Regions from separate parts of the Homo sapiens genome. Here regions 1, 2, 4, 5 and 6 are each linked to region 3. Evidence: fine-mapped expression QTL. A gene starts in region 3. Each other region holds a variant in brackets. All regions are shown on one strand. Distances are between the middles of the regions.

What was found.
Region 1: its variant is fine-mapped to the expression of SEPTIN2 in monocytes after Pam3CSK4 (Quach 2016, PIP 0.95). The same link has a PIP of 0.9 or more in monocytes after LPS.
Region 2: its variant is fine-mapped to the expression of SEPTIN2 in whole blood (TOPMed, PIP above 0.99).
Region 4: its variant is fine-mapped to the expression of SEPTIN2 in whole blood (TOPMed, PIP above 0.99).
Region 5: its variant is fine-mapped to the expression of SEPTIN2 in whole blood (TOPMed, PIP above 0.99). The same link has a PIP of 0.9 or more in blood mononuclear cells.
Region 6: its variant is fine-mapped to the expression of SEPTIN2 in whole blood (TOPMed, PIP above 0.99).

What each region holds. Positions count from the first base shown.
Region 1 is chr2:241,396,171-241,400,257 of GRCh38, forward strand. All of the region lies in intron 2 of FARP2 (FERM, ARH/RhoGEF and pleckstrin domain protein 2), which reads left to right. Among named protein-coding and RNA genes, the nearest start is that of FARP2, 42 kb to the left of the region's middle. The variant CT/C (reference allele first, on the strand shown) is at 1,661.
Region 2 is chr2:241,455,796-241,459,882 of GRCh38, forward strand. FARP2 (FERM, ARH/RhoGEF and pleckstrin domain protein 2) reads left to right here. Exons shown (of 27, transcript NM_014808.4): 14 at 952-1,127. Among named protein-coding and RNA genes, the nearest start is that of MIR3133, 20 kb to the right of the region's middle. The variant A/C (reference allele first, on the strand shown) is at 2,109.
Region 3 is chr2:241,314,340-241,318,426 of GRCh38, forward strand. SEPTIN2 (septin 2) reads left to right here and starts at 1,586. Exons shown (of 13, transcript NM_004404.5): 1 at 1,586-1,643. HDLBP (high density lipoprotein binding protein) reads right to left here and starts at 1,333. Exons shown (of 28, transcript NM_005336.6): 1 at 1,231-1,333. RefSeq lists enhancers at 309-358, 1,239-1,288, 1,309-1,408, 1,334-2,058, 2,049-2,108 and 1 more and silencers at 589-968, 1,509-1,858.
Region 4 is chr2:241,220,935-241,225,021 of GRCh38, forward strand. ANO7 (anoctamin 7) reads left to right here. Exons shown (of 25, transcript NM_001370694.2): 22 at 2,252-2,342; 23 at 2,728-2,847; 24 at 2,971-3,021; 25 at 3,163-4,087. The coding sequence ends at 3,219. Among named protein-coding and RNA genes, the nearest start is that of ANO7, 34 kb to the left of the region's middle. RefSeq lists enhancers at 2,795-2,964, 3,086-4,046 and a cis regulatory region at 2,880. The variant G/A (reference allele first, on the strand shown) is at 1,909.
Region 5 is chr2:241,381,252-241,385,338 of GRCh38, forward strand. All of the region lies in intron 2 of FARP2 (FERM, ARH/RhoGEF and pleckstrin domain protein 2), which reads left to right. Among named protein-coding and RNA genes, the nearest start is that of FARP2, 27 kb to the left of the region's middle. The variant C/T (reference allele first, on the strand shown) is at 1,517.
Region 6 is chr2:241,251,113-241,255,193 of GRCh38, forward strand. It overlaps HDLBP (high density lipoprotein binding protein), which reads right to left. Exons shown (of 28, transcript NM_005336.6): 9 at 3,939-4,046; 10 at 2,281-2,385; 11 at 1,845-1,923. Among named protein-coding and RNA genes, the nearest start is that of HDLBP-AS1, 19 kb to the right of the region's middle. The variant T/C (reference allele first, on the strand shown) is at 2,321.

The DNA of each region.
Region 1 (4,087 bases), 82 kb after region 3:
ACAAAAATTAATTCAAGATGGATTAAAGACTTAAACGTTAGACCTAAAACCATAAAAACCCTAGAAGAAAACCTAGGCATTACCATTCAGGACATAGGCATGGGCAAGGACTTCATTTCTAAAACACCAAAAGCAATAGCAACAAAAGCCAAAATTGACAAATGGGATCTAATTAAACTAAAGAGCTTCTGCACAGCAAAAGAAACTACCATCAGAGTGAACAGGCAACCTACAAAATGGGAGAAAATTTTCACAACCTACTCATCTGACAAAGGGCTAATATCCAGAATCTACAATGAACTCAAACAAATTTACAAGAAAAATCAAACAACCCCATCAAAAAGTGGGTGAAGGACATGAACAGACACTTCTCAAAAGAAGACATTTATGCAGCCAACAAACACATGAAAAAATGCTCATCATCACTGGCCATCAGAGAAATGCAAATCAAAACCACAATGAGATACCATCTCACACCAGTTAGAATGGCGATCATTAAAAAGTCAGGGAGCAACAGGTGCTGGAGAGGATGTGGAGAAATAGGAACGCTTTTACACTGTTGGTGGGACTGTAAACTAGTTCAACCATTGTGGAAGTCAGTGTGGCGATTCCTCAGGGATCTAGAACTAGAAATACCATTTGACCCAGCCATCCCATTACTGGGTATATACCCAAAGGACTATAAATCATGCTGCTATAAAGACACATGCACACGTGTGTTTCTTGCGGCACTATTCACAATGGCAAAGACTTGGAACCAACCCAAATGTCCAACAATGATAGACTGGATTAAGAAAATGTGGCACATATACAGCATGGAATACTATGCAGCCATAAAAAATGATGAGTTCATGTCCTTTGTAGGGACATGGGTGAAATTGGAAATCATCATTCTCAGTAAACTATCTCAAGGACAAAAAACCAAACACCGCATGTTCTCACTCATAGATGGGAATTGAACAGTGAGAACACGTGGACACAGGAAGGGGAACATCACACTCTGGGGACTGTTGTGCGGCGAGGGGAGGGAGGAGGGATAGCATTAGGAGATATACCTAGTGCTAAATGACGAGTTGATGGGTGCTGCACACCAGCATGGCACATGTATACATATGTAACTAACCTGCACATTGTGCACATGTACCCTAAAACTTAAAGTATAATAATAATAAAAATAAATAAATAAACTAGATTGATGTGTGTTTTGGTGTAGTCCCCTTAGAAAATTTGTTCTCATGAAGTATAAAGTTTTGTTCTCTGAATAACTTAACTTGCATACAGTGATCTATGTTAAGTGATCAAACTTCATAGTGTAGACACTGTACCAAACTTGTCTTTTTTTGGGTAATTTCTGTGATATGTATTCTGTTCTGCGTGACCATTTTAAAAGAGACCTTGGTAAGCTGAACTGTGTCCAGAAGAGATTGATCAGGTGAGGATTTAGGGAGGTAGAGGTTGGAGAGACATTTAGACGAAAGGCTAGGAATTATTTTCAAGCAGAACTGTCCAGCGGTAGAATCAGCTGCTTCATTGAGTTGTAGGTTCTTGGTGTATCAAGCAGAGGCGAAGTTCACAGCTCAGAGACTTTTGTAGAGAGGATTATTATAAAATGTGAAAGATCAATTTTCATGAACTCCAAAGGTTTTTTAAACCTTTTTTC[CT/C]TTTTTTTTTTTTTTTTTGAGACAGTCTCGCTCTGTCGCCCAGGCTGGAGTGCAGTGGCGTGATCTTGGCTCACTGCAACCTCCACCTCCCAGGTTCACACCATTCTCCTACCTCAGCCTCCCAAGTAGCTGGGACTACAGGCGCCTGCCACCATGCCCGGCTAATTTTTTTTGCATTTTTAGTAGAGATGGGGTTTCACCATGTTAGCCAGGATGGTCTCGATCTCCTGACCTCGTGATCCGCCCGCCTCGGCCTCCCAAAGTGCTGGGATTACAGGCGTGAGCCACCATGCCTGGCCCTTTTTTCCTTTTAATTACATTCTTATTGAAATATAACTTACATAAGAAAGTGCATGTGTCTTATGTGTGCAGCTTGATAATTTTTCATATGTATACACTTATGTATCCCCACCCAGAGAATGGAGTAGAACAGGCTCCCTGTGCCTGTCTCAGTTATGACCCCCAAAAGTAGCCAGTGTTTTGATCTTTAGCATTATAAATTAGTTTTGCCAGATCTTCAGGTTCATTTAAGTATGTATATATTTATCAGGTACATGAATACAATATGTACTATGTGAAAATTATCAGTGTTGTTGGTATAGCTGTGGTTTGCTTGTTTGTTCGTTGCTGGGTAGTATTCCATTGTAAAAACAAATCACTGTTTATCCATTCTGCTGTTTAATTGACATTTTGGTAGTTTCCAGTTTTGAGCTCCTATGAGTAAAGCTTCTGTGAACATTCTTTTTTTTTTTTTTTGAGACAGAGTCTTGCTTTGTCTCCCAGGCTGGAGTGCAGTGGTGCAATCTTGGCTCACTGCAACCTCTGCCTCCCAGGTTCAGGCAACTCTCCTGCCTCAGCCTCCCAAGTAGCTGGGATTACAGGCTGTGCCACCACGCCCGGCTAATTTTTGTATTTTTAATAGAGATGGGGTTTCACCATGTTGATCAGGCTGGTCTTGAACTCCTGACCTCAGGTGATCTGCCTGCCTCGGCTTCCCAAAGTGCTAGGATTACAGGCGTGAGCCACCGCATCCAACCAGACATTCTTGAATTTGTCTTTAGGTCTCTATAAACAGATATTTCTGTTGGGTTTATACCCCGGACTGGAATTGCTAGGTTATAGGGTATACTTCTGTATACCTTTAGTAGATACTGTCAGTTTTCCAAAGAGATAATACAAATTTACAGTGTTTGAGACTCCAGATGTTCTACTTTTCTTGCCAACATTAGGATTATCCATTTTTATATTCTCAGCTATTCTGGTGAGGGTCTAGTGGTATCTTATTGTGGTTTTAGTGTGCATTTCCTTGATGTAATATTGTCCAACTTTTCTTGTTGTTTATTGGACATTTGAATATCCTCTTTTGTGAAGTGCCTATTTAAGTCTTTCGGCCCATTTGTCATTAATTGGGTTGTCTGGTTTTTCCTTATGATTTGTAGATCTTTATATATGTTGACTACAAGACCTTTGTTGGGTTTGTTTGTTTGTTTTTGAGACGGAGTCTAGCTCTCTCGCACAGGCTGGAGTGCAGTGGCATGATCCCAGCTTACTGCAACCTCCACTCCCAGGTTCAAGCAATTCTCCTGTCTCAGCCTCCCAAGTAGCTGGAACTACAGGCACACGCCGCCACACCCGGCTAATTTTTGTGTTTTTAGTAGAGAGTAGTGAAAGTTTTGTATTTTTAGTCAGGCTGATCTCAAACTCCTGACCTCACATGATCCATCTGCCTCGGCCTCCCAAAGTGCTGGGATTACAGGCATGAGCCACCACACCCAGCCTCTTTGTTGGGTTTTTGTATTGCAACTATCTTCTATTTTGTGGCTTGCCTTTTTCCTATCTTAACAGTGTCTTTTGATATACAGAAGGTTGTAATATTCAGGTAGTCGATATCAGTCTTTTGGGGGTGGGGGAGCTAGTGTTTTTTGTGTCCTGTTTGAGAAATATTTGCCTACCCCAAGCTTTATTGTTGTGCCTTTCCGTGATTCATATTGAATTAATTTTGTGCATGGTGTGAGGTTGGAGTCAGTGCTTATTTTCACCTGTATGGATATGCAGTTTCCCTGGCACCATTCATGAAAAGATCATCCTCCCTGTACTGAAGGTTAAACACACATACATATGTTTGTTTGTGTGTATATATACAAATACCCATATAACTGTGAATTTTTGTGCCCGTATTTACAAACCCTGTCCTGGGTGTTGGACATTGCTGGTTAACAGGTGCCTTGTGAATGTGCTTGCACCTGCGTGGTTAGTGTCTATCGCCTTCATTAGTGTAGTCAGGCAGGGCTCCTGGAGCACACTCTGGCTGCACTACTCTAGGCAGTGCAGGGGCTCAGGTAGGACGGGGAACCCTGACCTCCCCATTGACTCACAGGGGCAGCCAGGTAGTTGAAAAAGGGTACAGCTAAGAGAATTTCATATTC
Region 2 (4,087 bases), 140 kb after region 3:
GTGGTGCGATCTCGGCTCACTGCAAGCTCTGCCTCCTGGGTTCATGCCATTCTCCTGCCTCAGCCTCCCGAGTAGCTGGGACTACAAGCACCTGCCACCATGCCCGGCTAATTTTTTGTATTTTTAGTAGAGATGGGGTTTCACCGTGTTAGCGAGGTAAAGTTATCTTTAAAATTTGGCACTTAATAGTTACTGGTTTCCCATAGAAAAACATTAGAAATTAACCTTTGAGAATTTTTTTAAATAGAAAAGGATTTTTTTATTATAAAATACACAATGAAATATATTTCATCATCTTTAGAATTGGGCTGCAAATTTGGCACCTATTTATTCGAAAACAAACATGGTTTTAAGAAGGGGAAAATTATTACTGTGTTTTAGAAAACCAAAATAAAATCCCCATTAATGAAAAACTCAAGGAACTGGAAAACAGTATCATGAATTGAGCAGTTTTATATGATCCGTTTTTTAATGAATAATAAGTTTGGCCTTAAAATAGACATTGTCTTTTCAGATGTTAGCCCTGGTTTGACATCTTAAGTCTCTAACCTCTAGCAATGCACATAGAAAGTGTTCCCCCGTCCTGGTGGTGCCTTTTGCTTTACACACTTTGTGGTGCTTAGTTTTATCATAGTTACATATTCTGCAGAGCCCAAAAGAAGCCCCTAGAAACACAAGGTTGGTATCCAGGCCCCCCTAGAGTCCGGGGAGGATCCACACTGTCTGTGGATTGCTCTCTGAAATTGGGTAGATGAACCATCAACCCTCATTTTCATTTTATGTCATGTTTAGAATTGTGTGTGATAGAGGCTGTACATACACATTTTACAGGAAGCGCCTGGCACTGTGTGAGGCTGGCGGTTGAATGGTCAGGAGAGTAGTAGCGGCTCTAAGCCAGCCTCACAGCCCTTTCTCATTTCTCGCTCCATCCCCCTCCCCGTTCATTTCCAGGCCTTTCCACGAAGAGTCCTCAGCCTTCTCCCTCCAGCCGGAAGAGCCCCCTGAGTCTGAGCCCTGCATTTCAGGTGCCTTTGGGCCCAGCTGAACAGGGCTCATCCCCACTCCTGAGCCCTGTCCTCAGTGATGCTGGCGGAGCCGGGATGGACTGCGAGGAGCCCAGACACAAGGTGGGCCCCTCGAGGCTGAGAAGCTAGCAGAGGGTTGCAGGGTGGGCCTGTTTTCACTGTTCCTTCGGGTGGTGCTGGTGGGGACCCTGGGGCGGGGCAGGGAAGGGCTCTGCACTCACAGCCGCCTTACCAGCCTCCTGAGCAGAGAGGAGGTACTGGGCCGCCTTCCCTAGCAAAACCTTCCTGAGACTTTCCTCTTATCTCTGGGACTCCAGGTTCCTTCGTACAAAAACGAGTTTCCTTATTCATTTAGCAAACGGTCCCTGGAACCCACAGGCTCCATGTGTCAGGCTGGATCTTCCAGCCTCCCCCACTCTTCCTTCCTTCCTTCCCACCTTCCTCATTTCTCCCTCCCGTCCTCCCTCCTTTGCTCCTTTCTTCTCTCCCTGCTTGGTCAAGCTTCTACTTTGACAATTGAGTAACTGGGAGGAAAGATCTGGGTGCTAAGGGAGGGTGCACTAGGGACTGCTTTGGGTTCCGGAGAGGCTCTTGGGCAGGAGGCCCAGTGTAGAAAGATCTGGGTGCTAAGGGAGGGTACACTAGGGACCGCTTTGGGTTCCGGAGAGGCTCTTGGGCGGGAGACCCAGTGTAGAAAGATCTGGGTGCTAAGGGAGGGTGCACTAGGGACCGCTTTGGGTTCCGGAGAGGCTCTTGGGCGGGAGACCCAGTGTAGAAAGATCTGGGTGCTAAGGGAGGGTACACTAGGGACCGCTTTGGGTTCCGGAGAGGCTCTTGGGCGGGAGACCCAGTGTAGAAAGATCTGGGTGCTAAGGGAGGGTGCACTAAGGACCGCTTTGGGTTCTGGAGAGGCTCTTGGGCGGGAGACCCAGTGTAGAAACATCTGGGTGCTAAGGGAGGGTGCACTAGGGACCGCTTTGGGTTCTGGAGAGGCTCTTGGGCGGGAGACCCCGTGTCGATGTTGGAGACAGTGGAGGAGCCACCTGGGGCGAGGGGGCGGTTCTCTGCTGTTGTGGCACGGGG[A/C]GGGGGGCACATGGGCCACAGACAGGGGTGAGGCTTTATGACAAAGTTGAGGCAGTGTCCCCTATGGGTCTCTTTTTATCAGAGATGATAGGAATAAGGGCACAAACTGAGAGTCTGCAGGGAGAAAGTGACCGAGCAGAGAAGCTCACTGCTGGCAGGCACAGGGCAACCAGGGGCAGGGATGCTGTGGCCTCAGGGTGGCCTCCACTCTCCTAGCCCAGGGGAGTCTGCCTACAGCTACGGTTTTGCAGATGGACCCTAAAAGAAAAGACTCAGGGTCCAGGGAGTTTGTAGACTATATTGGGCCTGGAGTCCACAGAGAAGGGAGACATGGGGTCCCTGAGTGGCAGCTGGATGGGAAGAGGCCATGGGGCCTCTAGGAGGGAGGGAGTCAGTGCTGGTACAGGGGGAGGTATGTCATTGTGACACCTCAGCACTCCTGCTTTGGCCCGAATTGGCCAGAGGATATTCTGTCCAAGGCCTGCCTTCCAGATGCCAGGGCTACCCGTGGGATGCTGGGACTCTCAGCAGGTAGGATGGCACAGGCAGGGCAGTCTCCTCCTTCCTGGTGCCCTGAGGGTCCCCCTGGATCCCACTGGAGTGGAAGGAGCCCCCTGGTCTGGAGGCAGCAAAGGATATTAAACGTACTGCTGCACGAGGCCTGCAAGTGAGGGCTAGTTCTGGGCCCTGGCAGCAAGACTGTTTCCAAAAAAGATGTCTTTTTATTTTATTTTGGAAACCTAATGACAATCTCTTTAGTTCACTGTTTCTTTGGTACAAAAAAAAAAATGGCTACCAAGCAGTCTGTTATTAAGACTAAATTTTAATTTGTAACTTTTTATATTACAAAAATCAGTTGATTCTTTAGATGGTTCTATAGGATGACAGCTTGTCACATCTGAGGATAATTGGGCTGGTGGCAAGTGGCCCTGGGAGAAGCCTGTGAGTCATGACGTGGCATGGGGCCAGCAGCATGGCAAGGCCCTCTGGGATGGGGGCACCTCAGGGTCCTCACCGAGCCATGCCCTTGAGGAGTTGGTGGCTGGGTCACTGCAGAGAAAGATTCGGCAGCCCTTGGGCCCAGCCCCTGCGTGTGGGCACCCTCAGCCCTGACGTGGTGTCTCCTGTTGCCTCTCCTCAACACCTGGGCTCTGGAGGGAGGGCTCTGGGCTCTGCTTCAATTCTGTGTGTGTGAGTTGAGATAGCAAGGCTGTTGCCCAGCACAGGTGGGCTCCGAGATGGCAAGGATGGCCCTTTCATCACCATGCAGGGGCTGCTGGTTTGACCCAGAGGTAGGTTCCCACCAGAGTACCCCTCTGTGCTGACCTCATGAACCAGTGTGCCCAGCCAGGCTGCAACAGGTTCTGGGGAGACCCCGGCCCCACATTCACTGACGGTTCTGCTGGCAAGGCCTGGCAGACCACTCTCCTGGGGAGCCAGGGTGACAGGGGTCTGAGAAGCACGTGCTGCCACTGAGGCCACCCGTCAAGCTTTTGCACTTGCACCCAGTTGCTGGGCTGTGCGGGGAGGGGCAAAGAGCTGCCCACCCTCCAGCCCACCCTCGCCAGCTGGTGCCCTCCTCCCCAGTGTCTCCCACTTGATGCACTGTTTGTCCCCTTTTTAATAGAGATTTGTGAGGATCGGCCACAGTCGAAAGGTAGGAAAGCCAAAGGTGGCAGAAGCCTCTTCCACGCTCTGCATGGGCACATAGACCCTTCATGTGGGGACAGGTGGCGAAGCTCACAGGAATTGCATGCTCCTCTGGGCCTATCCCTGGCCGCCGTCTCATCCCTGGCCTGCAGCCCAGCTTGCTGGGGGTCAGGTTTGACATTGATCTAGAGGTGGGGGCAGCGTGGCAGCTGCTGTATTTTCTGTCCCTGAGAGTCTTCTCACGGTATTCCTTGGGCTGATTGGGCGGGGCGGGGCGGGGGCAGGGGCGGGACGGAAGACCCTTCTCTTGGCCAGTCTGCTCCCCTGAC
Region 3 (4,087 bases):
AATGTGCCGCTACCAGGAGCCTTAGACAAAACCCTAATTGTGACTTAACCTATCTTAATAGGGTTTTAAGGAAGTTAGCTGCTAAGAAAGTGACTATCCTTAAGCAGACACCAAATAAATGTGAAGTCATTGATTGAGGGCTTAGGGTATAGGTAGCTATGAATCTGAGGACATAAAACGCAAAACTGAGGGGCAAATCGTCATGTTCCTTAAGATTACGACTCATCCACATTCCTTCAGCCGTTTAATTTCACCATAATAGGCACTGTTTAATAAGCAAAGCCCAAGTCGACTTCCTTCGATTTTACATGGCGTCCAAACACCATGTCAAGTCTGACCCTCTCATTTTTTAAGTCGAATGGAGAGGATATGTAGCAGCTAGCCTTGAGCACCTAACCACTTTTCAAAGGAGCTACGCACAAAAATACCCTAGCAACATGCCACGGTGTCAGAAAGGCTCAGGTTCCCAACACCATGCGGGTCAGCCATTAGGAACTCAGGAAGTGTTTCCTCTAAGCGGGGGAAACCTAGGAAGGCTTCCTGAACGAGGGGTATTTGCGCCAAGCCTTGACGTGAGTCTCGAACAGTTGCAGTGCCTCCAGGCCACGCGGGAGGGAGGAAAGGACACCCCGGGCCGGGGCACAACCCGCGGGCCGGAGCCGCCCGCGCCCATCCCGCTCAGGCCGCAGCCAGGCACGGCACCCTCCCGTCCCCGAGCCACGTCGCTGCTCGTGGGCTCGCGGAGCACTCCCCAGGTCTCACCTCGGGCCCCACACCAGAAGGAGAAAGCTAGGGGCCGCGCCAGCTCCGCCCTCCCCCGCGGGGCGGCGGGCCCCAGCCCGGGCACAGGAAGGCCACGTCCCCGGGGAGGGACGCCCGACTCGATGGTCTGCGCAGGGCCCGTCGGCCCCACGTGACGTGCGCGCAGCCAATCCCAGAGAGGCCCCCCGATCATCGAGACGGCGGCGGTGGTGGGCTAGACGAGTTTCGCGCGGCCGCTCGCCGTCCCCCGCCCAGTCGTACTCGGCGCCCCAGCTCGGTGCTGCCGCCATCTTCTTGGAGGACAGGAGGAGAGGCGAAGGCTCCCCCTCCCCGTGATCGCTCCGCACTCCCGCCACCACCTGCCCTCCCGCGACCGCCTCTCTCCTCCTCAGTGGGCACTTGTCTCCTTCTAACAAACGGCCTTCCCCCCACTCCAGTTACCCACCGCAAGGCGAAGATTCTCATTACCTGTTCCACTCTTATAAGCATAAGAAAACCGAGCTCATAAGGTAGGAACTGTGGCGAAACAGGGACAAGCCGCCATCTTGGTAAAGGAGAAGAGGCTACGCTTGACCTCCCCCCCCACCCCCAGCCTCTATATGGCCAACTGCCGTGGGAGGAGCACGGCGCTTGCGCAGAGGCGGACAACGCGGACGACTCTGGGCTTGCGCACTCGGAAGCCGGCCGCATGGGGGAGGGGAAGAAGGCCAGGTCGCACTGAGCCAGGAAGCAGTTGGCAAAGGGGCGGGGTGACGCGGTGACGCAATCCGCCTGCGCGCTGGGCGGGGCGGGGCGGGCTGGGGCGGGCTGTGAGCGGACCGCGAGCGCTGGGCGGGTCCGCGGCGCGGTCGGTCGGCGCCTGTTCTCGGGCTGTTTGGCGGGTGAGTGTCTCGCCGGTGTACCCCGCACAAGTTGTGGGCCGGCCCTCCCGAGGAGCTGCGGGGGACGCGCCGCTCGTCCCATACTCTCGGGCGGTGGTCGGCTGGCTCTGGGGTGCCGGCGGGGCGGTGTGGGGGAGGGGCGGCCGAGCCCAGGCTCTTCGGCACTTATCGTGGGCTCCCCCGTCCCGGGCGGTCCTAGTGCCGGCGACAGTGGCTCCGACACGGGCAGGCCCGGGCGCGGGAGTGGGGATTCCGGTGACCCCTTGTTGACCCTGCGGGAATTCCTCTGCACTGTCGTCGGTGCTGGGCCTCGGGGCGTCGAGTGCGGTCGAGGTCGGGAGGTTTGGTGCTTGGAGGGAGGATACAGGTTTAGGCCCGACAAACACTTAGAGCTTGTGTGGCCATCTTGTCTTTCTAACGGTGCCATTTCCTCCCTGAGGCGTGGAGGACTGGCCAGCCCCCAAACCTCCAAGCCCATCGGCTGGATGCCGTGGATAAGCGAGGGGAGAGCGACTAGGCCCTGTCTGCGGGTACCTTCGGCGAGGAGAGGCGACGAAGGTCTGCACCAGCGAGGCACGGACAGGCAGCAGGGGGTAGGGTATAGGGTTGGAGGCCGCCGAGTTGGCCCGGGGATGAGGAGCAAACCTGTGGCTTCCGTGGTCTCAGTGGAGTCCCAACTGTGACCTGGCCTACTGGCCCAGACAAACCTGGCTTGCTTTTTTACCTTTTCGGTCTAATTCTTGTCAGTGCCACCAGACCTTGTCCTCTCTCCACGGAAACACACGAACCAACTACACTGAACTTCTTGTAGTTCAAACTTCTGCACCTTTGGCCATTGCCCAAACTCTTAAATCTGGCTACTTCCCACCTTAACTGCCTTCTCCTTACCTAGTCTGTGCTTGTGGGATTCCGCCCAAATTAGATTTCCTCCAGACAGGCTTAGGTGTTTACCTGATGTTCCAGATGGTATTTGTCCAGTGGACTATTGGTGCTGTGAGGGCAGGGCACATGTTGTCACCCATACTCATTGCCTCGGTTGGTGTCTAGCACCTAGTAGGTTCTCAAATACTTTTTGAATCACAGTGCCTGCCGATATATTTAATGTTTCAAAATAGTTCTGCCGTCATAAAGAAAAACATCATGGTGTAGGGGTCATGAAAGCTGATTCTTGATACTTCTGATTTGAGCCTCATTGTTTTCAGTGATTTTTGATAGCTCCCATTAATGGGTTCTTTGCACCACCCAGCATCCTAACTCATGATGTGTACTGTTATGTATAATCTTGGCATTGATCTCATTAGCTATAAAGGTTGTCCTGATTTTTTTTCCTCAACTTCCACCTTGATTTCTCTCACCAGTGCCACAGCCAGGAATAAAGAACAAGAGCGTTTTAATTAGATCAGATTTACATTCTGACTGGCTCTTAAACTAGCAAGGTGACCTAGGGAAAGGGGCCAGGGTTTCCCTCTATCATTCATAAATGTAATTCAGGGCCCCTTTTTATCCCCAATACCAGCATACAGAAACTGCTGTAAAAGAAGAAGTTGTGGGTATTTTTTTTTTTTTTTTTGTCTGGAGGAATGGGGACACCAAAACTCATTTGGCAGCAGAGGTGAGGTAAGGCCATTTGTATTGTCTGTTCTGTTAGTAGTCATACATGCCACTTATCCCTGCCCCAGTCCCTGTTAGGAGTGTTATGTGGGTATACTGAACGTGGACCTTCCCCGAATCCAAAGAATCCAGATGCTTTGAATAAGATCATGGACCTTCCGGGTTCTACATCGCCAGATGTTGTTCATCTTCTATCTTTTGTTTTGCGAAAATTGGTTTTTTATGTGTATTGGGGTTATTCTGTGGAAGAAATAAGCTGTGGGTCAAGATTAAAGAACTTTAAACAACTTCTGGCATGTGGAATAAACACGATCTGAAGGAACAAAATTTTCATTTGACTACATTTTTGGTCCAATTTGCACCCAGTGTTTAAGTTAATCACAGTGCTTGGCAGTTTGTGTTGCTGGATCAAGGCTTTCTCACTGAAAACCATGTGCTTCAGAGGTTCATAATTCCTCTTTCACCTTCCATTTCACATTAGTTAATAAATTATGAGAGAAAACATTGTGGATCCAAGTTATGTTTCAGAAAAAAAAAAACAGGAAAAAAAAAAGATGGCAGGAGAAACTTGGTAAAGTCAAAGCAAAGTTGAAATGTCAGTTTAAGACAAATAGTTTCTCCATTTTCCCATATGTGTGCACAGGGTTCAGTGAGGCTGAGGGGTTCTGTGGAGGTGCGGGAGAGGTGCTCTATGGTATTTCTATGTTGCACTGTGTGGGTTTGAAATCAGATACATGTAATAGGTGATAAGGTAAGTGCCTGCTCTTTTCTATCCTCAGCATTGGCATTTAATCTTTCCATGTGAACTTAAAGCTCATTTTATCCAATCCTTT
Region 4 (4,087 bases), 93 kb before region 3:
CACTCCAGCCTGGGCAACAGAATGAGACGCTGTCTCAGGAAAAAAAAAAGAAAAAAAGAAAAAAGCACTACCTTTACAGATGCCTGCTGGTGAAACAAATCAAAGAAAATGATATTTTTATTTTTTTATTTATTTTATTTTATTATTATTTTTTTGAGACGGAGTCTTGCTCTGTTGCCCAGGCTGGAGTGCAATGGCGCGATCTTGGCTCACTGCACGCAACCTCCGCCTCCCGGGTTCAAGCGATTCTCCTGCCTCAGCCTCACAAGTAGCTGGGATTACAGGCGCCCACCACCATGCCCAGCTAATTTTTGTATATTTAGTAGAGATGAGGTTTCACCATGTGGGCAAAGCTGGTCTTGAACTCCTGACCTCAGGTGATCCGCCTGCCTCGGCCTCCCAAAGTGCTGGGATTACAGGCCTGAGCCACCTTTCACGCCCGTCCTATTCTCTTTTTTCTTTGGGACAGAGTCTTGCTCTGTCACCCAGGCTGGAGTACAGTGGTGTGATCTGGGCTCACTGCAACCCCCGCCTCCTGGGTTCTTGTGCATCAGCCTGCCAAGTAGCTGGGATTACAGGCGTGCGCTACCACACCCAGATGATTTTTTTTTTTTTGTATTTTTAGTAGAGACAAAGGTTTCACCATGTTGGCCAGGCTGGTCTCAAACTCCGAACCTCAGGTATCTGCCCACTTCAGCCTCCCAAAGTGTTGAGCCACTGCACTTGGCCTAGGGAAGGGATTATTTCTTTTTTTTCTTTTGAGATGGAGTTTTCCTCTTGTCGCCAAGGCTGGAGTGCAGTGGCATGATTTTGGCTCACTGCAACCTCCACCTCCCAGGTTCAAGCGATTCTCCTGCCTCAGCCTCCTGAGTAGCTGGGATTACAGGTGCCTGCCACCATGCCCAGCTACTCTTTTATATTTTTAGTAGAGACGGAGGTTTCACCATGTTGGCCAGGCTAGTTTCGAACTCCTGACCTCAAGTGATCCACCTGTCTCAGCCTTCTAAAGCACTGGGATGGCCGGGCGCGGGGGCTCATGCCTGTATTCCCAGCACTGTGGGAGGCCGAGGCCGGTGGATCACAAAGTCAGAAGATTGAGACCATCCTGGCTAACACGGTGAAACCCCGTCTTGACTAAAAATACAAAAAATTAGCTGGGCATTGTGGCACGGGCCTGTAGTCCCAGCTACTCAGGAGGCTGAGGCAGGAGAATCGCTTGAACCCAGGAGGCGGAGGTTGCAGTAAGCGAAGATCACGCCACTGCACTCCAGCCTGGGCAACAGAGCGAGACTCTGTCTCATAAATAAATAAATAAATAAATAAATAAATAAATAAATAAAGTGCTGGGATTACAGGCATGAGCCACCGCGCCCGGCTGAAAGAGTTACGTCTTTGTTTAGTTCTGGAAATGTCTCCATCTTACTCCTTCCAGCAGTGCTTCTCTGCTTGTCCATTGTCGTCTGGAACTCCCACTGGGCTGTGGCCTGCTTCCCCCCAAGTGTGCTCTCTGTGTTGCCGCAGGGTGGTCTCGTCGTCACTGTCTCCCAGTCCCCAGTCTCTCTTCTGCTGTGTCTGGCCACTTAAAAGTTTATTCCATTCATTTGAGGGATTTTTTTTCCAATGGCTATATTTTTAACTTGCAATATTTGGTTTTTTGTTTTTTTTATTTTCCTACAAAGTTGACCCTGGTAATAGTTTTCATGGAGTGCAACATGTAACTTTATATTAGAAAATGGAATGTCACATCTTTACCATGGGACAGAGACACAGGAAGATGTCAAAGTCTGAAATAGCAAGTGAAGCTGAATGTAGCTTATGATAGGGAGGGAGGGCTCTGCTGGACAGGGACAGTCTCTGAGCAGGTGAACTGCTGATCTCACAGAGGTCAGCAATCGGCGGATTTTCACC[G/A]TGTAAGTAGACTGAAGTCATCCGTAGAAGCACAGACGTACTGGACTGTCACATCTACTAGAAAATAAAGCATCTGCCACCTGGGGGGTGGGGAGGGTCCAGTTTAGCCCAATGGGGGACAACCCAGCACATCCACCTTTGGAACCCACCAGTTAAAGGTATTGTCAGAGTATCCTGTTTGGGAAGAATTCCCATTTCAGGCACCCTCGATGAAGAGCCAGGCCAGGAACATGGGATGAGAGAGCGAAATGGTGGAAAAAGGGGAGATAGGCTAATTCCAGAGGCACCTGCCCAGCCAACACTCAGCCCTGGCTGCGCGCACTGAGTCCTGTGTCTGCTGCAGGTATCGGGCTTTCCGGGATGACGATGGACATTATTCCCAGACCTACTGGAATCTTCTTGCCATCCGCCTGGCCTTCGTCATTGTGTTTGAGGTAGCCGAGGCACCTGCTGGTTCTCCCATCCATGGCATGAGGCCCCGACCCTGTGCTTTGCCTAATTCGAGCACGTGGTGAGGGGTCGGTGCCGTCACTTCCTGCTGTGTCATCTTGGTCAAATCAGAGCTCTTCTCTGCACCTGCGTTTTCCCTGCCTGGCCTCATCCCTGGGTTGTGGTGTGGACATTGTGGGTGTCTCCACAGGAGCCCCAGGGCCACGAAAGCTGGGGTGGCCTCTGCCCCTTCTGGGGTTCCTTTTCCTGCACAGCTGCTTTCTGACTCCACCCACAGCTGGGAGCAGGTGCCGGAGCCCCGGCCTGCCTGGCCCTGTGAAGGCCACTCTGGGCGTTTGGGTGGGCGTGAGTGCCTTCCTCTGCTCCCAGCATGTGGTTTTCTCCGTTGGCCGCCTCCTGGACCTCCTGGTGCCTGACATCCCAGAGTCTGTGGAGATCAAAGTGAAGCGGGAGTACTACCTGGCTAAGCAGGCACTGGCTGAGAATGAGGTGAACTGTACAGCCCAGTCTCGGCCCTCCCCCCAGCCCTCTCCCTATCCTTGTCAGTGGCTGCTCTACCTCCGGACACTGAGTCACATCCCTCTTCCTCTTGCTGCCCTTTTTTGGGGACAGGTTCTTTTTGGAACGAACGGAACAAAGGATGAGCAGCCCGAGGGCTCAGAGGCAAGTCTGGGAGCAGCCAGGCCCCTGCCCCGTGCACTCCCTGAGGTCACAGGGCCCTGCCCAGCCGCCCACTGTGCCTCGTGGCCATGGCCTGCTCCTGGCCCTAGTCTGACTTGTCCCTGCCCCCAACCCTCTCCCCAGCTCAGCTCCCACTGGACACCCTTCACGGTTCCCAAGGCCAGCCAGCTGCAGCAGTGACGCCTGGAAGGACATCTGGTGGTCCTTAGGGGAGTGGCCCCTCCTGAGCCCTGCGAGCAGCGTCCTTTTCCTCTTCCCTCAGGCAGCGGCTGTGTGAACCGCTGGCTGCTGTTGTGCCTCATCTCTGGGCACATTGCCTGCTTCCCCCCAGCGCCGGCTTCTCTCCTCAGAGCGCCTGTCACTCCATCCCCGGCAGGGAGGGACCGTCAGCTCACAAGGCCCTCTTTGTTTCCTGCTCCCAGACATAAGCCCAAGGGGCCCCTGCACCCAAGGGACCCTGTCCCTCGGTGGCCTCCCCAGGCCCCTGGACACGACAGTTCTCCTCAGGCAGGTGGGCTTTGTGGTCCTCGCCGCCCCTGGCCACATCGCCCTCTCCTCTTACACCTGGTGACCTTCGAATGTTTCAGAGCGCAGGGCCGTTCTCCCTCGTGTCCTCTGGACCCACCCGCCCCTTCCTGCCCTGTTTGCGCAGGGACATCACCCACATGCCCCAGCTCTCGGACCCTGCAGCTCTGTGTCCCAGGCCACAGCAAAGGTCTGTTGAACCCCTCCCTCCATTCCCAGTTATCTGGGTCCTCTGGATTCTTCTGTTTCTTGAATCAGGCTCTGCTTTCCCCCTAGCCACTACAGGCAGCCTCTGACAGTGCCGCTTTACTTGCATTCTGCAGCAATTACATGTGTCCTTTTGATCCTTGCCCAACTTCCCTCCCTCTCCCAGCTCCTGGCCCCTGGCCCAGGGCCCCTCTTGCTGTTTTTACCTCTGTTCCTTGGGGCCTAGTACCCAGCAAGCACCCAAATGGGGGAGGTTTTGGGATGAGAGGAGGAAACGTGTATACCTGTAACATCTGGTGGCTCTTCCCCCAGAAGT
Region 5 (4,087 bases), 67 kb after region 3:
TGGGGTGCCACTCCCCTCTAGTGCCCAAAACCTTTTAGACTCAGCTGTACCCCGGCCTGCTGCTTGTTGTTGTATTGTGGAGAAATTCCTCAAGGTGCTCTAGGCAGGATTGAGGACCGCTGACTTTGAGAAGAGTTCACAGGCTCTGGAGCGTGGACTTCCCACCTGAGCTCCCCTCAGCCTGCCTCATCCATCAGGCACCTTTTGCTGATGCCATTTCTTTCTCACCCTCATTTCTCCCCTTCTGTTCATCCTTGAACACAACAGACCTCAGAGCCCTCTTCTCCACAGCTGGAAGGTGCAGTGCTTTTCAGGGTTCTGCTGGCACTTCACTTCTGGGGGCATTTTTCAGTCATATCGGCCTCACGTAAGGAAGCTAATTCTACATTATTGTTCCTTTTTAGGTATAGAAAGTAGTCATGAATCTCCAGAGAGCTGATGGTAGAATTACAGTGATCTCTGTTCTTTGAGAGAGTGCATTCTACTTTTTTACCTTACCAAGTGTTACATGTATATTTTTCAAGTTATATGATTATTTCACAGATTATGTGTTCACAGTGGTTTAACACTTGCACTGCAGCATCTCAGCTTTCTGGGGATGAAGCTGCCCCTGGTGAAGCCCCCCAAGTCCTTTCCTGCATGTCGAGCAAAGGCCCATTGGGTTACATGCTGCAGCTAGAAGACCAATCAACGCCATCTCTCAAGGTTCCTCATGCTTCTTTTTTTAGAGGGAATTCATCCAAAATGTAATTCGGTTTTCATTATACCATTAATACTTGTACGCTGCAGAAAAACAGGAACTCACAGTGGCCCACAGCCAAAGATAACTACCCAGAGAGAACAACCATTCACATTTTTCTGAATACCCTTCTGGCCTTTTATATGTTCACCTATATTAAACAAAATTGGGACTGAACTATGTGCATTTTTGTAGTCTTTTCAAAAATTAAACATTATATTCTGAACTTTTTTTATATGGTCTTTTAAAAGTTTTTAATGGCTATATAGTGTTCTATTTTCAGTTTCTCTGTACAAAATCTATTTTTTTTTTTTTTTTTTTTGAGGCAGGGTCTCATTCTGTTGCCCAGGCTGGAGTGCGGTGGTGCAATCCAACCTCCGCCTCCTGGGCTCAAGCGATCCTCACACCTCAGCCTCCCAAGTAGCTGGGACTACAGATGTGTGCCACCATGCCCGGCTAATTTTGCATTTTTTGGAGAGATGGGGTTTCCCCATGTTGCCTAGGCTAGTCTTGAACTCCTGGGCTCAAGCCGTATACCAGCCTTAGCCTCCCAAAGTGCTAGGATTACAGGTGTGAGCCACCACACCCAGTCTATACAAAATCTTTATACACATTTTTTATTATCTCCTTGGGGTAAACGTATAGAAGTGGAGGTTCTTCATCAAAGTGTATGTACAGTTTTGAGGTCTTTGATACATGTTGTGAAATTGTATTCCAGAAACAGCAGAAGCACCTCATGCCCCTACCAGTGGTATATGCAGGTGTTCATTTCTCTCA[C/T]CTTTATGGACATTTCATATTACAATTTTTAGTAACATCTCCTGTTTAATAGGCAAAAGTTAGGATTTTTATTCACATTTTCATCAGACTTGTCTGTTTTATTTTTTGTTTTGTGCAGTTTTTGGTGTTTTTGGTCTACATCATATTTGAAGTTTAAAAATAACTTAAGAGTTGGGAAGATACTGAATACATTGTGTTGGAAGTAAAATAAAAAAGGAAATAAGAATCGAGGAGTGCTGGAGACTTCGCAGAAAGTGATTACTTATGGTGAAGGAAAGGATAGAAAAATTACGGAAAGCCACACAGATGGGATGTGGGTTTGGGCTGTGCTCACCCCAACAGCCTTAGGCCAGCACGTGTTTGGCAGGTATTTGCTGAGCCTCGGTGTGCACCACCCTCTGCCGTCGGAGCTGGGAGTGCCAAAGTGAACGTAGCAGACAGGAGCTCTGCCTCCTTGCGCTTGTTCGGCAGTGGGGAGCTCAACAGTGGACAAGGTATACTGCGAAGTGCTTAGTGCCCAGGAGAGAAATAAAGCACGGAGGGAGCAGGAGACATGGAGCTGCGCTCAGATGGAGATCCACATCCCACACTCCCACAGCCCTGTTCCTGTGGTGGGAGGGGCCGGCACAGATCTCTGTTCTTGAGAACAGTGTTCAGGTGGATGGAACAGCACATGCAGGTGCCATTAGGTGACCCCCATCTGGCACGTTTGGGGATTAGCAAGAGACCATGTGGTGGGAGTGGAGCAGAGAGGCATCTAGGAGGGCTTCTGCTCACATGGAGGGAAATGGAACTCCACCCAGGACGTGATGACTTGGTCCAGAACCAGGTCAGGACAAGAGGGGAGCCTTTGGGTGACATTTGCGGTGACCCAGGATGTGGCTTGGGCAGAAGGGAGCAAGGGAGGTAGTGAGAACCAGTTGCATCCTGGAGAGATTTTGAAGGTGGAGCCTGCAGAATTTGCTGGTGCTGATGTGGAGGATCAGAAACCCAGGAGCCAACATGGTGCAAGGACTGGGCCTGAGCTCCCATGTCCTGCACTAGGGAGCCCATGGGAAGAGCTGCTTTGGTTTGGGGCCATGTGGAGTCGAAGAGGCTCATTAGGCATCTGAGGAGAGGGTTCTCAGGCACTGGGCTTGGTGGGAAGAAGCGTTGTTGCTATGTCCTGAAGGAATGTGAGCTCTTTTCAGTGCACCAGATGCAAGGCGGCCATTGCTGTGACCTTCCAGAAGGTGCTAACATTGCCCTTCTGTGAAGCCACCACTGTTATCCCGCTGGGTCATGGTGAATGCCAAGTGTCAGAGATATTCTGACACTTGGCATTCACCATGACCTAGTGGAAGCCTTTGGGTGACATTGCAGTCACCCAAAGACAGCTTTTCTAAACTGTCATCAGTCTTCGACTTCTGAACTTTTATTCTTAGAGAAATTTAGACTGGTCATTAAAGAGAAACATGAAAAGTATCTGTTGGCACTTCCAACTGTTGTTATTGGAATGCTCTGGAATGTTCTATGCACATGAATGATGCTTTACATGTACAGTTTTGCACTTTATATAGCAGCAGCTTTTTGCCACAGTGGTAGAGGGGATCCCAGTCCTACTTAAAGGCTTTTTCTGGTTTCTAGGAAAGTCAGAAAGATATTCTTTCCTCCTTGATCCACAATCTTAAACACTTGCCTGGAACTAATAAACTTCTGAAAAGCTAGTGATGAGAATCCGTTGCATCCTGGAGATGCAACTGATAAGTTCATGGATCAATCTAAAATATATTTCTTTGAAATAAATCTAATATTCCTGATTATGAAAAATACATTCCTTCTTAATCTTCTGGTTTTAGATATTGATGATGTTTTCTCATAATTACACTTTTTAGATTTGTTTGGTCCTTGCTAATATGCATCCATATGCTTTTTGCATGTATTGATATTTGAAACTGGTAAAGTCAGATCTTTGTAGCAGAAGAAAAACCTCTTTTTTATTAAAGCAATTTTCAATTAAGACAACTCAAACATGGCTTAAAGGCTCTAGACATTACTATCCTAGGAAAAATGTTGGAACATACATGCTAAAAATACACAGTGAGCTCTTTTAAAGTAAACATCTTAAATCAAGGTTATTCAGCTTTATATTGTTTGCTTCTGGCTTTAATTTACATCAATTGTAAATTTCTTAAAAACATAGAAAATAATAGAAACATGTCCTAAATTTAATTATGAATATTAATTGTATTAAGAAATGAAATTGTAAATTGTACATAAGTCCTAACATCATATAAAATTAGACTTGTTAGCTTAACATAAGCAAAAACAACCATCTTGCGAGTCTTTCATCAGCTCTTAGTAAAACACAGGATTTCGTAATGAATCTTCAAATTTTACTTATTTAGAGGAATCAAATTTGGAGAAAACTGAGAACACTAGAGGAGGGCAAACTTGTTTTGGAAATGGTTGCTAGAAAGTAAGTTATAAAAACTAAAACTCTTTTATTGCTGTTAATTTTCCTCAGTAAAGAAATTGATGCTGCTTTTTAAATCATTCAAGTCAAGTAGTTTATAAAATAATAGTATTTTG
Region 6 (4,081 bases), 63 kb before region 3:
CAGGCCTGGCTAAATTTTTCTTTTTTGTAGAGACAGGGGTCTCACTATGTTGCCCAGGCTCATCTCGAACTCCTGGGCTCAAGTGATCCTCCTGCCTTGGTCTCCCAAAATGCTGGGATTACAGGCAAGAGCCACCGTGTCAGGCCTAAACAAACGCTACAGTTAACCAAAACCAAAACAAAACCGTAAAAGCAAGTTTATGGTGTATGTGTGGTTCAAGTAGTGCGCAAAAAGGTCACTTTGTGCCTACAGACTCTCGTCGCTGTCACGTAAAATGCCCACAAAACATAAGACTGACACCAGAGAGCTCACCATTGCACAGGCCACAGCACAGCTGCCAAGGCTATGTTTACTCATAACAAAAACGGATACACGGACGTCAGTCATGTTATGCAGGTCGGTGTCCCACTACCTGGGAAAGGCTCCTTCATCCACTGAACTATCCAGGAATGGAGGACGTGCTTGCCTTCTCACCTTCCACCCAAAGGTAACACACGCGACGTGTGCACTTGTTTTCAGAACACGCGAGTGTGTGAGTATAGCCATACAGTTAAACAAAGAGGTGTAAAAAAACATTCTTGGTTGGGCACAGTGGCTCATGCCTGTAATCCCAGCACTTTGGGAGGCCGAGGTGGGCAGATCAACTAAGGTCAGCAGTTTGACACCAGCCTAGACAACATGGTGAAATTCCATCTCTACTAAAAATACAAAAAAATTAGCTGGGTGTGGTGGTGCACGCCTGTAATCCCAGCTACTTGGGAGGCTGAGGCAGGAGAATCGCTTGAACCTGGGAGGTGGACGTTGCAGTGAACTGAGATCACGCCACTGCACTCCAGCCTGGTGACAGAGCGAGACTCCGTCCCAAAAAACAAACAAACAACACAAAACATCCTTGGACCTGCAGCAGAATGCCCACGACACACTTCTAACAGCATCCTGTAACTGTGCTACACCTGCAACCTGGCACAGGTGAGGCACACAGCGACCTTGGCCCACATGACATACTTCCAACAGTGTCCTGTAACTGTGCTACACCTACAACCTGGCACAGGTGAGGCATATAGCGACCTTGGCTGACATATCACTGCCTCTTCAACAGAATCCCCCTGCTGGGTGTGGTGGCTCACACTTTTAATCCCAGCACCTTGGGAGGCCAAGGTGGGCAGATCACCTGAGCCCAGGAATTTGAGACAAGCCTGGCCAACATGGTGAAACCCCGTCTCTTCTAAAAATACAAAAATTAATTGGCTGTGGTGGCATGCACCTGTAGTCCCAGCTACTCAGGAGGCTGAAGCTGGAGAATTGCTTGAGCCCGGTAGGCAGAGGTTGTAGTGAGCTGAGATCACGCCACTGCACTCCAGCCTGGGTGACAGAGTGAGACCCTGTCTCAAAAAAGTATCCCTCCCCATGTTGTTTTACTTGGGCACAAATCTAGAATGTTTTTACTCTTCAGTGAGTTCCAGATCAGCAGTTTCCACGTTCAGAAGGCATGAGTACTACCAACACTGATTGGCTAACCTAGCAGGTCTGACGGAAATATAGAGAATGCTGCCCTTGGGCATGCCTTCAACATGGCCTCTGTGGGTTATTTGGGGAGGGCTTAGATGGATTTCCAAAAGTGACAATTCACCCACTGGCCAAGCAGCTCTAATCCAACCACTGCACCAAAGGGAAAAGGAAAAGTGGCCTCTTCCAGCAGGCAGGAGGATGTAAAGTCTGTAACTCCCATTACAGGCAGCAATGGGCCTGGACTGTCTGCACGGACGTCACAGTTCTCACAGCTGACACCCCCCACAAGGGTCTCAGGGCACACTGGCCCCACCGCAACAGACAGCCTCACTCACTGTTGGCACCGCTCTTCCCAATGAGGTGCCTGTGGAACTTGTGGTCGATGTTGATCTCCACATAGTCCATCCGGTTAATCTGCAGGAGGAGCACAGAGGTCCATGGATGCGCCTGGTTACTTGGCCAATGAGCTGAACCAAAACCCAGCAGTCTCCACGGTTGCCTTTTCTGACCACTCAGCTGTCAGGAATTGTTGGAGACTGCCCCTGCATCTCCCCTGAAAGATGCCTTCTTCAAGATGAAGTTTCCTCCACCCACGATTATTCCAGGACTTCGACCAGCTTCTGGTTGTTTCAGAACCTATTACTCACCCAGCTAGGATGCCCTGGGTGTCTGTGCCCGGACATGTGGGATGTCATCGAGAGATGACCGCCCATGCCCAACTCAGAGCCTCCCTTGTCACCAGCACACACAACATTCCAAGGGGTACCTTACCAAATCTTTGACCATGCCTTCTATCTGTTCCTGGGCCACA[T/C]TGACATCCTCTGTAGGGCCCTCCAGGGTGATCTTGTCTTCGCCCTCTGTGAACTCGATGTGAACCTACCACACCAAAACCAAAGAGATAGCTAAAACAGAATGGCACAGCTGCAGCCCCTGAGCTCCCAGTGGGAGCTCTCTTCGGAGCGGCTTCTGATCCCAAACTGCTTCACATAGATGTGAGGGAGGGAGGGACATATCCACAGCCATCAAACAAAGTTGAAAGGGAGGGTTAGGGAGCCATAGTCAGGAAACTAAATACTGTGGCCGAATAATCCTGCCTCTCACTAAGGACACCGTTTGCCCCACAGAAGCCACTAACATAAAGCATGCGACATGCGACATGCTCCTCCACCATCTGAACTTTTACAAGGCCTGGTCCTCTTGAGTTGCATAAAGAATGAGACAGAGCACGGATGGAATTTTAAAACTCGTATAGCTGTACCAAGGTGGTAAAGTAACTTGCTTGACATAGACAAGGCTGCCAGAGTTCCTGGTTTATTATCCTCCAGGTAAGGAGTTAAGGAAGGCAGACTGGTCCTTATATGAAGCTATACAAAGTAAAAGGGGCTGGGCACAGTGACTCACACCCATAACCTCAATATTTTGGGAGGCTGAGGTAGGAGGACTACTTGATCCCACGAGTTCGAGATCAACCTGGGCAACTAGTAAGACTCTGCCTCCACGAAAACTAGCCTGGGGCGCCTGTAGTGCCAGCTACTTGGGAAGCTGAGACGAGCGGATCACTTGACCCATGAGTTCAAGGCTGCAGTGAGCTATGACTGCGCTACTGCACCCCAGCCTGGGTGACAGAGTGAGGCTTTGTCACTAAAAAAAAGGAATAAAATAAAAAAAATTTAATTTTTAAAAAGGACTGTAACATTAATTGGAAACAAAGTTTAAATAAAACAGGAATTAAATATGATGGTTGGATTCTCTGGTATTTCTTTTTTGTTCATGTTTCCTGGGGGCTACAATCTCCTTTGGTAAACTGAGAACGCTTTAAATTCACACTTAATACAATTTGTATACAAGTTCTGCTCTTCAAAGTATTTTTTTTTTTTTTTTGAGACAGAGTCTCGCTCTGTCGCCAAGGCTGGAATGCAGTGGTGCCATCTCGGCTCACTGCAAGCTCCACCTCCCGGGTTCACGCCATTCTCCTGCCTCAGCCTCCCAAGCAGCTGGGACCACAGGTGCCCGCCACCAAGCCCGGCTAATTTTTTGTATTTTTAGTAGAGTCGGGGTTTCACCATGTTAGCCAGGATGGTCTCGATCTCCTGACCTCATGAGCCACCGCACCCGGCCCGCCAAAGTATCATGAAGTTATTTCACCATAATTACTAAATGACATGTTTCTTAAGATACTTATGAAACCTAAGAACATACAATCCTCTCTGGTTAAAGGCCAGAAGGATGGTACAGACATCTACAGACATTTATTCTGCTGTTCTTTAAGCTAACACGGAAGTTGACCATGTCAAACAGGCCAGTTAATTCAGAAAAATACACCAGTTTTCAAGGGCATCCACAGTACAAAGGTCAACAAAGCAATATCAGAAACAGAAAGACAGAAAACAAGACAAATTCAATACAACAGGTGAAAAACGTGTCCTTACCTTTGGCATCTGCTGAGTGATTTTGGCCAGGTTCTGCCCTTTCTTGCCAATGATGAAACGGTGAAGCCAGGAAGGGGCGGCGACAGAGGAGACGGTGAAGCTATTGGCCTAAGAAAATGGGAGAACAGCCATGGGTTTGCAGA